Regions from separate parts of the Homo sapiens genome. Here region 1 is linked to region 2. A link means that fine-mapping ties the variant in region 2 to the expression of a gene that starts in the linked region. Tissue or cell type: whole blood. Region 2 holds a variant in brackets; the other region holds the start of a gene. All regions are shown on one strand. Distances are between the middles of the regions.

Region 1 (5,000 bases), 93 kb before region 2:
TCCCTCCTTCAGTGGCTCCTCAGGTCACCTTACAACAACGTCTCTAAATTCCCTAGGGATTTACCAGGTCTTCACAATCTGGTCACAGTTGACTGTACTAGCTCCATGTTCTAACTTTTGCTCCTTTCCATTATATACTTTAGCCAAATGGGAACTGATTATTTGATTCCTTTATTGCTGTCAAGTACTTGCTTATAGTAGTGTTGCTTTCCCTGCATGGATCAACCTCACTCCAACTCCCATTAATTCCTCTGGAAGGCTTCTCTGATCCTCAACTCCTTAGTGGTCATACCACCCTGTTGTAGTACTTATGACTTTATAACTGAATGTTCACTATTTCATGCAACCTATGAGACTAAACACCTTGAAATCAGAGACCAAAAACTCCAGCATATGGTAGGTTCTCAATAAGTATTTGTTTACCAGTATTAATAGAAATAATAACTATCATATGTTGAGTGCATATTCTGTGTCACACTCAAGTCTGTGAGATCTGAATAAAAGCCTCAGGACAAGTAGCATTTACTGGGTGCTTACCAAGGCTGTGCTAAGAGAAACATTATCTCATTGAATCCTATGAACAATCCTATAAAATGGGTACTGTTATTCTCATTTACATCTGAGGAAACAGACTCAAAGAGATTAACTGGCAGATATGGTGAAAGAATCTAGGTCTTTCTCACTTCAAAATCTGTGCCTTTAAAAAATTACAATAAGCCTTCACTTAAGCTAGTCACTAGGTGCTTGGAAACTAAACTATGTACAACGAAACTAATTTTACCGTGGGTTAATTGACAAACAAAATTTCCTGCAGCATATTTCTGGTCACAAAAACATCACCAGACTTCTAAATAAAGACCAAAATACTTCTAATATTAAACACTGAAAGAAATGTTAGCTATATATACATTTAAGAAAGATTAATTAAAAAACAAGTAAGATAATTATTTACCCAACTATTCCAGTTCAATGTCACAGGTAGTCAGAGCCTATCCCAGTAGCTCAGGGCACAAGGCAGGAACCGACCTTGGACAGGATGCCATCCTATGGCAAGGCACACTCATACACACCCAATATTCACACAGACTGGGACCATTTAGACACACCAATTAACCTAACTTGCATATCTTTGGGCTGTAGCAGGAAACCAGAGTACCCAGAGAAAACCCACGCAGACACAGAGCATGCAAACTCCAAAGACAGTGGCCCTGGCCAAAACGAATTTTTTTTCTCATCAATATTATAACTAAATGCTGTTGAATGAAACAACACTATTTGAGAACCTTTTGTATAATACACGACCTTCCCAACTTGGTTCTATTTTCTCAACCTCTACCCATTTCATCCAAACCTGACTCAGTTTTTACATTCTCAGCATCATCTTGTTTCACAAAGAAAAGAGGAAGAAGACTGGAGTCTGACTTTTCCTTAGAATTGCACAATAATCTTATTTTGTTCTCTTTTTGGACCAAAAACTCACCTTTGCCATCGCCCCCTGTGTGACTTTTTGTCTTTGCTTCTAAGTTTTCTCCTTTAAATGGATGCTAAGAACACAGTTGGTATTTTTAACGAAGAAGGGCAGTAACTCATATTCTAATTCAGAGATTCTTTCTGGAAAGACTGTTATTCAGTCAAGTATTTAGCTTCAAGAAATAGGTCAAAAACCAATGAGAAAAATATACATGATTGGATGGCTAGATGATTGATATATGAATCAGTAAATGAAATTTCACAGCAGAACCACAACACAAGCCTACGCAATTTAGGGCAATATTTCTTAGCCAGTTTCCTTTTCTGCGAAATAGAGACAATAAAAGCTTTCACTTCAAAGGATAATTGTGAAAATTAAAGTTAATACATGCAAAGCACTGAGAATATACACGGCCACCCGTAAGTACTTAAGAAATCTCTGGAAAGCTAATGAAAACCACAGATCCCTGAACCTATATTCATTCTGAACTAGAATCAGAACGCCAGGTCTAAGTGGAGAAAAATAAGAAAATCGATAAGGGTTCCAAACGATGCTAAGACTCAAGAGTTAACCGAGTGGCCCAAGTTAAGTGGAAGTGTCACAAACGAAAGATAAAGATATGGTTACAGAATGAGGAACTAACAAATAGGAACAAACAACATTCGCAAAAGAACAAAGAACACAATTTTTATTGAATTCTGCAAATATAAAATATATCTGTACAGTATTCCACCTGTTGCTAACAGCAACTGTGCTCAACAAGAACTCAAGAGTATTATTATATTTGCTTCGAAGTTAGCAAGTGATACTAGTAGAAAAGGCAATGACAAAACAATCAGGTACCAGAGGAAGAAAGAAAGGCAGTATGTCTTGGATAGTGTCTGTAAACCTGACCTAGCTCCCCAACTCCAGAAGTCCCCATCCTTGCACGGACGGTCACTGTCGCCACTGCCAAGCCTTTCCCTCCTGCGAGGGAACCCACATCGAGTGATGTGGTACAACTCCTTCAGGCAGTGAAGAACAAAAGACCAGGGAGAAGATGAGGTTGAGGGAAGGCGGCTAATACCGAGAGCCTATAATACCGCAAACACAGTGCCTGGCTCTGTCATATAAATTTAAATCGCGGGAAAGGACTTGGAGGAAGGGAACGGATAGAGCGGGATAAAGGACCAGAAAGAAGAGGGACTGCTAGGGGAAAGGGAGGAGGTAAGGAGAGTTTAGGGACTGTAGACAAAGTGGGATCAGAAAGAGGTTGCAGGCAAGGACAGCAGGGAACGACAGCTTAGAGAGGGGTGCAGGAGCTGGGAGTTGGGGCGGAAGAAGAGAACACACTGCCAGAGCTCGAAACGCAGCGAGGGGAGAGACTCACGGAGCCACCCGCTTACCTTGCTACGCCCCCCGGAGGCGACACGCTGCTGCGACCTGGGGGCCGGGAAAGACTGGGAAGGGACGTTCAGCATCTTCAAACCCCGGCCCCGGGCCCTGCCCGGGGATCGCCGCCAGACGGGACAGCACCTCCAGCTCCGGCTCTGTGGCCGGGCAGAGGCCAAGCCCCCGACCCACTTCCGGGGTCGCCAGGGGTGAGGCGCATTCTGACGCAGCACGTCCGCGGAGGGCGGAGCCAACGGGACGGAGGGAGGGCCGGCAGGGAGGAAGTACGCATGCTCAGCTAGTTCCGCATCCCGAACTTCAGCACCGGAGCAAGGTGACAGCTATTTCGTGGAAAGATTAGAGAGTGAAGCTGTTCCTTAGCCTTGGTGCTGACCGAATGTGGGAACAAATTCTTAGTCCTGTTAACCCGGAACAGCAATGTCTGTTCATTGTTAAGCAGTACCATCACACTACTTGAAATATGGACTAAAACACACTACTTGAAATATGGACTAAAACGAATTTTAGTTTCTCTGAAATTCTTTCCTGTAAGGCACTAGGCTGTAATGCAAAGAGCATCTCACACCTTTAAGAGCAAAAATATCAAATGTCAACAGCCACTACTGTGGGGTAAGAAGAAAACCTCACCTTTAATCATCCTTAAACTTCACCTTTAAGCATGCTGAGGGCTAATGAATGCGCGAAAGACGTTAGTAAAGTCACCTTCTGCTCTATTCACCCACTCACAAATTCTCCCTCCTTATGTAACTTCCTGTCTTCACTGGGAATTGTGTACTGATGCAGCTCACCTCCAGCTGTGGTGATGAAGTAACGTTTAAAAGTCAGATTTGGTTTGCATGCCATCCCTGCACTTAATGACTGAGCTGTCTTATGCAAGTTACTTTAGTATCTCAAAGTCTCATTTTCCCCATCTGCATAATGGGTTTATTAAAGATTAAAGGATCATGTGTAAACTACATACTGCAGTGCCTGATTAATATTAGGTACTGAATAAGTGGCAGTGGCTGTTTGTGCTATTCCAACATATTAATGGGAAAAGGACCAACACTGTGCAGGTAAACACCAGGCTCTAATGCTCAAAATCTGATGGTTTTTGTTTGTTTGATTGATTGTTTTGTGTGTCCCTTGGGGAACACATAGATCTTGAGAGTAGAATCCAATAAGGGAGAAAGTTTTCAGGAGAAGAAACATAGTTCTAAATAATCCTCCCCATCCTCCTTTAATTACTAATTTTTCCTAACTCTGAACATATTGTCATGCTTTAAACTTTCTCTGTTTAACTACTTAGTTCTTAAAGTGCCTAAAAAATCAAGGTTATGTTTGCAGAATCAGAAGAAAAAGTGTGTGACTATATGTGGCCATTCAAATACAAGCATTCAAATAAGGTAGCCACCTATGACATTCACCTCTATCCATTTTTATTTGCAATTGAAATGCTTATTATGAGAAGACTGAATTTGAGCTAAAAGAACCTCATGACTATAATTAACTGTATTACTTTGACTTTGCAAATTGCTTCTGTGTTCTCTCTCATTAAATGATGACATATTCTTCTAGAGTCTACACAAGAAAAACTAATCACTGAGATTTATTTCACTTCTCGTGAGAAAACTTTTACATAAGAATATCAAAAGCAGAGAACCAGAGCAAGGAAAAGTTAATATTGTTGAAGAATGTTCCATGCTTTCCAAATTTCTTAGCTCCCCTTTGTACAGAAATGGAAGATGCTATCAACTTCTGGCCTTTAGACTCCACTTTTTTAGACTCCATATCAATCACTCAAATTTAAACGTTTTGTTTTAATTCTAGGGATCCCTCAATGTAGTACATTAAGTATTAAACATCCATACTATTTTACTACTGGATTTAAGGACTGAAGAGGAGTATTAAAATATGAGTTACTTTGCTCATCATTTATTTAAAATATCTATAATTTAAAAGCCCTAAGATTGATTCCCTTTTTCAATTACAGGTAATGATTTAATGTGTTTTTCTCCATCTGCTAAGAAATCTTTACTAATAAATGAGTGATTTCTAACATAAGTCTATTTTCTTCATTATCTAATAAGATAACATTGATATGTAACTACAACATCCAACTGGCATCAGTAGGAAATAGCAGATGTTAAAAGATTCA
Region 2 (7,624 bases):
CCATTTTGCATAATAAATTATTAAGTTTCAACCAAACAAGCAACCAATAAAACAATTGTTCAGATACATAACTAGAAACAAAATAATTTTTGTCTCTCATTTATTTTGCAACTTTTTTTGATAGCATTGATATTTAATTCATGCATATTTTTAAAAACATTTATTAATCAATTTCTTAAGATCAAAAATATATCTTTGACCGAATTTTTTTTTGTTACTGAAGTTTTGTTTTTGTGAACTGTGTTTGGGGTTCAATAAGATATTTAACATTTTTAACTTTCTTAATTAATTTCTTTATGTTAGCACCAGGGATTTATGGTGTTTCTTCAGACCTCTGTTTATTTGTGCATAATTCACAATGACAATGCTATGGAGCAGTGAGTGACCAAGGTGGGCCCATAGGCATGGAGAAATTATGGATGTCAAACCCTGGGCAGACTTCCTCCCTGGTCAGGGCTAGTGGAGAGGGAATGGGTTTCCTTGTTCCTTTCTGGCATGGAGTAAATCCCAAGCAAACAGAAGCCTAGGGGAAAAGGGAAGTTGGTGGTCTAGAACCAGCCTTATTTGCTCTTTTCTTTCCCTCTTCTCTTCCTCTCTCCCTTTCTCTCTTCTCTTGCTATTTCAGTTTAGACTCCTTTACATACTCAGAACAGAAATTTGCTCATATTAGTTCCCATAATGATTTAATGTTAAAATCCAGAGATTTTACCTCAGTATGGTGGCATGTGCCTGTGGTCTCAGCTACTCAGGAGGCTGAGGCTGGAGAATTGCTTGAGCCATGGAGTTGCAGGTTGCAGTGAGCTGAGATCAGGCCACTGCACTCCAGCCTGGGCGACAGAGTGAGACCCTGACTCAAAAAGAAGAAGAAGGGAAAAAAAAAAAAAAAAGGCCAGCTGCAGTGGCTCAAATCTGTAATAGAAGCACTTTGAGAGGCTGAGGCAGGCAGATCCCTTGAGTCCAGGAGACCAGCCTGGGCAACATGGCAAAACTCCACCTCTACAAAAAATTCAAAACTTAGCTGGGTGTGGTGGCGTGTGTCTGTAGTCCCAGCTAGTTAGCAGGCTGAAGCAGGAGGATCACTCCAGCCTGTGAGGTCAAGGCTGCAGTGAGCCAAGATGGCTCACTGCACTCCAGCCTGGGTGACAAAGTGAGACACTGTCAAAAAAAAAAAATCACCCCCCAAAACAAAACAGATTTTGCAGGAACCCACCCAAGAAAAAGTGTTAGGAACAACAGAAGATTCTCTCTCTCTCTCTCTCTCTCTCTCTCTCTCTGTCTCTCATATGACCTTTCTCTCATGACATCTTTGTTTTTCTGTGTGCATTTGCTCAATTCGCATCTATTAACTAACTTCTTCTTCCTATAATTTCCATTTCCACCATGCCTCTATATCCTGACTCTACATCATACCTTCAACTCCAGTTGTCTTTTCTAATTCACTCAGTTTCTCATTCCCCAACTCCAAAATACCAATAAATAAATCTGATTGGCTCAGCTGGTCTTTTCAAGCCAGGCCATTGATGGTCCTAATCCACTCAGGCTGAGGGATAGGATCACATGGATACAGAAAGGGCTATGAGCAGGGCAGGCAATGATCAATATCTCAGTATAGTCTTCTATTTTTCTCTCATTTCTTTTTTCAAATAGCTACTGAATACCCACCACGTACCCATTACTATTCTAGCCTCAGTCTCTACTTTCAAGAAGCTAATCATCCAGGAGAGGAAAGGAAGATGGGGATTCCAGAGAGACTTCTCAGGTAAGATGATGCCTGAACAATGTCTAAAAGAATAAGTAAGAGTCACCTCAGTGATGGGAGTAGGAGGTTGGCAAAGATGAAGAGGAAGAACACAGAGGATTCCTGGCAGATGGAGCCATTTGTAGAAAGGAACAGAGGTTAGAAATTCACTGTAAATCCCTGGGACTGCAGGTGGTTCAGCAATGCTAGGGGCCTGGCAAGAAATAGGCTGAAGAGGTAGGTGAGGGAAGATCATAAAGTGTCTTGCAGCCCCCAAGTTTGGAGGACAATGTGACCACTAAATAATTTTCAGTAAGGCAGTAATACAATTGGATTTTTGTTTTATAAAGATCTCTCTGGTAGCAGTGTTGGCAGTGGATTGGACGGGTACTACTGAAGTCTAAGAAATGAATTAGAAGATCACTCTAGGCTTCAAGGTAAGAAATGACGTGAGGATTGGAATTAAGGCATGCCATCGGAATGGAGAAGAGATGGACTTGAGAAGTCCTAAGGAAAGAGAATCAATGCATACAAACTCAAGATGTGAAAGGAAGAGTGACTAGAGGTCTGGTGGCTTTACCCCCTTGAATACTTTCTAAGCCCACCCCCAACACAAGTACTAGTCAAATACCTACTTCTTCTTCCCTATGTCTTACCATTGGTGTGCACAAGCAGATGAGAAGAAGCTGGGAGAGGTTACGGCTTCATTTTTAGCATCTAGGGAGCACTGTTTTACAAACTTGCTAACCCTCCTTACAAAACCTTATCCATTTGTATTCCTCAAATCTGTTTACCGTTGGACCTGTCTTCCAGTCCATTCTTCCAAGCCCTATTTTCCTTCCTTGGCTGCTCTGCTCTTTCACATTCCCTTGACTGATATTGTCCAGAAATCCCTAACATTCACTCACTCGCACATTCAGTCAACATTTGTTAATTTCCTACTATAGACAAAGAGAAGAGAGTGATCAAAGAGCAACCCCTCCATGACACCCAAGCACTTTCTGTAGCTTTGAGGCAGAAGAGCAGGGTAGAAAAATATAACTACAGTGGGATTAGCAAAAAATGAGCCCATCAGCAAGGCTTTAATGAACTCAGTGTGAGCCCAAACTCTGCAAGAATCAGAGAAGGCTCCACACAGATTTATAGATTTCACTGTCTATGGTCAACAGCAAAGGTAGGGACACATGTAACTTGGGCTATTTTCTTTTGGAGGTCCCTCTGGCCCATCTCACCTGCATGATCTCCTAGATGTGCTTTCACTTGCCAGCATGCAAGCAGCAAAACAATAATTTTATTTTAAAATAATTATATTTTAAACAGTAAATATTTAATATTAAACAGTAAATATATATGAAACAGTAAATATTTAAAATAATTAGTGTTTAGGGCTAGAAAAGTGGAATTTAGAGGGTCATTAGCAGTTATCCTCCTGCCTAGAAGTGTAGCTTAATCTCCAGCCTTAATGACTCCCTGCCAACTGATTTGTCTCTAGTATAACTAACCACAAAGGATGAGAAGAGAGAAAGAATTGGAAAGGGATCCTTATTCTGAGTTTTAGCATATACTGGCCTCAAGAGCCACATTCAACACTGGAATTAAGCTACATTCCTCTTTCTCGTCAGGCACTTCATTCACCACAAATGAACAAAATATTTCTGGTTCGTTTCTGGAAAGGAAGTGAAACTGTGAATTCAGGTTACCCAACAGG[G/A]AAGGCACAGTAGGAAGAACAATAGCTGAGCACATCAGTACCAGCTTCATAGAGACCAGCAAGCAAGATGGGGTGGGACAGAGGATCAGTACATCTAATGGTCTGATATAATGCTTCATGGTTTCACAGAAGCGCAGTTGGGAACAATTTAACATGGTTCGTGACAGCCAAGAAACACTTGTTTGTCTGAAAATCCTAGACTGCTGACATCAGGGCCCAGGGGATTCCTATTGGGCTGAGGCAATGCAAAGACTACAAAAAAGGCAAAGCTGTAAATCATGCCCTAGAGGTCAAAACACTTACACAAGGTTACACATGGAATTCTTGCAGCCAACCAAATTGGACTTTCTTTGAAGCTAGGTAAACAATCTTTGTCTTGGCTGCTATGTCACAGCCATATAAGATGGCAAAATACAGCTGCAAAAAGGCTTTCAGCAGTTTCACCTAGTTTACCTTCTATGTCTAACACCCAGTAGACCAGAAGATTCCCCTGACGAGACTGTTTCCTTGGAGCATGATCCTTCGTGTTCTCACACTGTCCTTTCCCCATTTCTTTAGTCAGTTGTATGGGATGCACAAACATTTTACTACCTGTAAAGCACGTGAGTTACAGCCTCATGAGTTTGGAGCGATACATTATTTTTGGCATAAGTCGACAAATGTGATGGCATTTTATGGCAGTTTCATAGGCCCTTTCCTAATTTCTGTGTACTTGCATCTTCCTTGAAAATCAGAACCAATTCTCCCAGCCTCCTTATTAATAGGAAAGCGAAATTTCTTCTCTTTGAGCTACAGGTTCACCCCCATTTCCAGGTCATATTCATTTCATTGCTTAAATCTATTTCAACTGTAACTTTTTGTTACAGTTTAACAATTTGTTAAATTGTTAAACTTTTTAACAACGTTTATCAACTTTGTTCATAAAATTATCACCAATTACATATCCCTGGTTCAGAGGCTCAAAGTTATTTATGTTGTAACTACTTCTTCATGTTTTGAAACCTTCTCTAAAAACTCTCAAGTTTGCTTTCAATTTTTCCAATGATTTTTTTCTAACTCCTAGGATCTCCTCAGTCCCCAGGGAGCTCACACTCCAAGGCCCACATCTAGTTCTAAACAACCCCAAATGAAACATTATAGCATCTTGCATTAGTCTATTCTTACGCTGCTAATAAAGACATACCCTAAACTGGGTAATTTATAAAGAAAAAGAGGTTTAATGGACTCACAGTGTCACATAGCTGGGGAGGCCTCACAATCATGGCAGAAAGCGAAAGAGGAGAAAGGCACATCTTACATGGCCACAGGCAGGATTGCGTGTGCAGGGGAACTCCCCTTTATAAAACCATCAGATCTCTTATTCACTAACAGGAAAACAGTGTGGGAAAGACCCGCCCCCACGATTAAATTACCTCCCACAGGGACAATTCCCATGACATGTAGGAATTATGGGAATGATAATTCAAGCTGAGATTTGGGTGGGGACACAGCCAAACCATATCACACCGCTTCAGACAGACTTTATTGGTCTTATTTTCTGCCCATTTGAATTATTTTACCATCTAGTTTTCATTCGAGTTTTTGTGGGGATTTTGTTGGGAGATGGGTGTTCTTCTGCATGTAGTTAAGCTGTGTTGGCAAGACTGTGGGAGTCAGGGAGGTCAAAGGAGCCGGAATGTAAGTATGGAAGGTCAAAGCTGGGGCGGAGGGAAAAAGTGAGGGAGACAGAGATTGAGTCTCTATAAAATTCCAACCTGCTGCAGTAGCTAATCCTTTCAAAGTCACTTCATATACTGCTAAGTTAATGGAGGCAGTCATTTTTCCCAGACAGTGGTAATATTTGTTACCTGGACAACCTACTCATTTATTCTCTACCCCTCCCCTAAATAGGACTGCAGTCATTTCTGTGTGAAAACAAAACTCACAGTTCAACAGAGCCATACCATTTAGTTTGTTTAATTACAATGCTTATTTTTATAAATACCCAGCAGCACATTTTTAGAAATCTAACAAATAAGCAAATACATCCTTAGATCACAGACACAGCTCTCCTATTTTGTTTGGTACAAAAAGGAAAGAACACTTATCACACCTACACACTATTATTTCCCCATTTCCATCCACTTAAATGCACTTAAATCCACTTAAATGGAGAAATGACACGATTCCTAGTTTTCTAAACCATAACTAGAATTTCCTCTGGGGAATTAGTGTGAATACTCTCAGAAAATCTTTTGCAATGATATTTAATTCCTCTTTTGTACTTTAAAACGACTTCATAACTGATCAAATAAGCAAAAAAAAATTGTGGGGGTGGGGTGGGGGGCATACACAGGCTAGAGAATAACTAGAAGGCTATTCCAGAAACCCACCAAGACTTTGATTTTGGAAACTGACCAGATGGCTTCACTGGTGAATTTTTCTGAATGTTTAAAGAAGGAATAACACTACTCTTACATAAACTCTGTGAGTATGGAGAAACAGGAAACATTTCCAAACTTGTTTATGAGGCCAGCATAATCCAGATTTAAAAAAACTGGCAAAGACATTATAAGAACAGTGAATTATAACCCCATATATCTCATGAACTTAAATGCAAAAAATATTTTTAATAAATTATTAGATATGCATATGGAAAAATGAAACCTGAGCCTTAACTTATGCTAATTCCAAATGGATTGTAGATACATCTAAATATAAATGCTTTGAGAATAATACAGTTTTGAGAAGAAAATATAGAATATTTAATGGCCATGGGGAAGGCAAAGATTTCTTAAGTAAGACACAAAAAACATTAATCATAAACCACAACAAATTACATTTCATTAAATTAGACTTTATTAAAATAATAAATGCTCTTTATCAAGAGACAGTATCAACTAAATGAAAAGTCACAGAGAGGGAAAATAATTTTTTAATAGATATGTTTAACAAAAGACTTGTATCTAAAATATATAAAGAACGACTAAAGCTCAATAAAGAAAAGCAAACTAATTTTTAGAGGGCAAAAACTCTAAACAGGCACTTCATAAAAAACTTTACCTAAAGGTTCAATAAGAACTTTTAGAAAGTGCTCAAGATTGATAGCCAGTAGGAAAGAGCAAACTAAAACCACAATGAAATATCATGACACATCTGCCAGAATGGTTGAAATTTTTTAAAATGATGATACCAAGGGTCAGAAAGGATATGGAGCAACCAGAACTCATACGCTGCTGTTTAGCACTACCTCTTTGGAAAATTGATTGGCAATAGCTATTAAAGATAAATATACAAACCCCTTTGATCCAGCATTTCTACTTCTAGGTACCTACCCTGAAGAAATGAGTATGTATTTATACTATAAGGCAAGATAAGATACCTACCCTGAAGAAATGAGTATGTATTTATACTATAAGACACAGATGAGAATTTTTATAGCAGTATTCTATTCATAGCCCCTAACTAGAAACAACCCAAATGACTACCAACAGGAGAATGGAGAAATTATGACATATTTATACAATGAATGTTTTACAGCAATAATAAAGAATAACTACTAGTATATGCAACAAGGAAAATTTCACAGAAATGATGTTAAACTTAAAAAGCTAGCAGAAAAAAGTACATTTTGTATTATTTTGTTTTATTAAGTTCAAAGAAAGGCAAAAATAACCTATAATGATAGATTTTTTTAAAAAGCTCCCAAATGATTCTAATTTGCATCTAGGTTTGAGAACCACTTATATACAGAGGAGGTAACTGAGGGCCCAGAAGGTGAGGCAATTTGGCCAAGGTCTCTTGATTCCTAGCTGCTGCTGCTGCCATTAGGGAAAAAAGATTCAAACCAGCACTTCATTATATGTATTACACGATGGAATCCCAAATCTTGAACTGCGTGTATTTTCCCTAATAAGCCCACTCTATGTAGATTCCATGGGCTGTCCGAGAGATCTCTTTCACCTAAGAGTGAGTGAACATTTCTGTCTCTTTTCCCATGAAAACTTTCTTTGATAATTTCTACTATTTAAAAATGACAATGCATAAGAGTATCTATAAATAAATATGAAAGAAGTGATATATATTTCTCTCAGGTGTCTTTTTATATCTCTACCTGACATTAGTTAAGCCAATGTTCTGATATCCTCAGTGTTAATCTTCTGATTTTTGGTGGTTTTCACTTTCTGTTTATTTAAAAA

Evidence for each region. PIP is the estimated chance that this variant, and not a neighbour inherited with it, causes the effect.
Region 1: it holds the start of CYB5R4, and the variant in region 2 is fine-mapped to the expression of CYB5R4 in whole blood (INTERVAL, PIP above 0.99). The same link has a PIP of 0.9 or more in blood mononuclear cells.

Annotation. Positions count from the first base shown.
Region 1 is chr6:83,857,714-83,862,713 of GRCh38, reverse strand. It overlaps CYB5R4 (cytochrome b5 reductase 4), which reads right to left and starts at 3,025. Exons shown (of 16, transcript NM_016230.4): 1 at 2,857-3,025. The coding sequence starts at 2,931. All of the region lies in intron 3 of RIPPLY2-CYB5R4 (RIPPLY2-CYB5R4 readthrough), which reads right to left. RefSeq lists a silencer at 2,905-2,954.
Region 2 is chr6:83,763,032-83,770,655 of GRCh38, reverse strand. No RefSeq gene overlaps it. Among named protein-coding and RNA genes, the nearest start is that of SNAP91, 58 kb to the right of the region's middle. The variant G/A (reference allele first, on the strand shown) is at 3,447.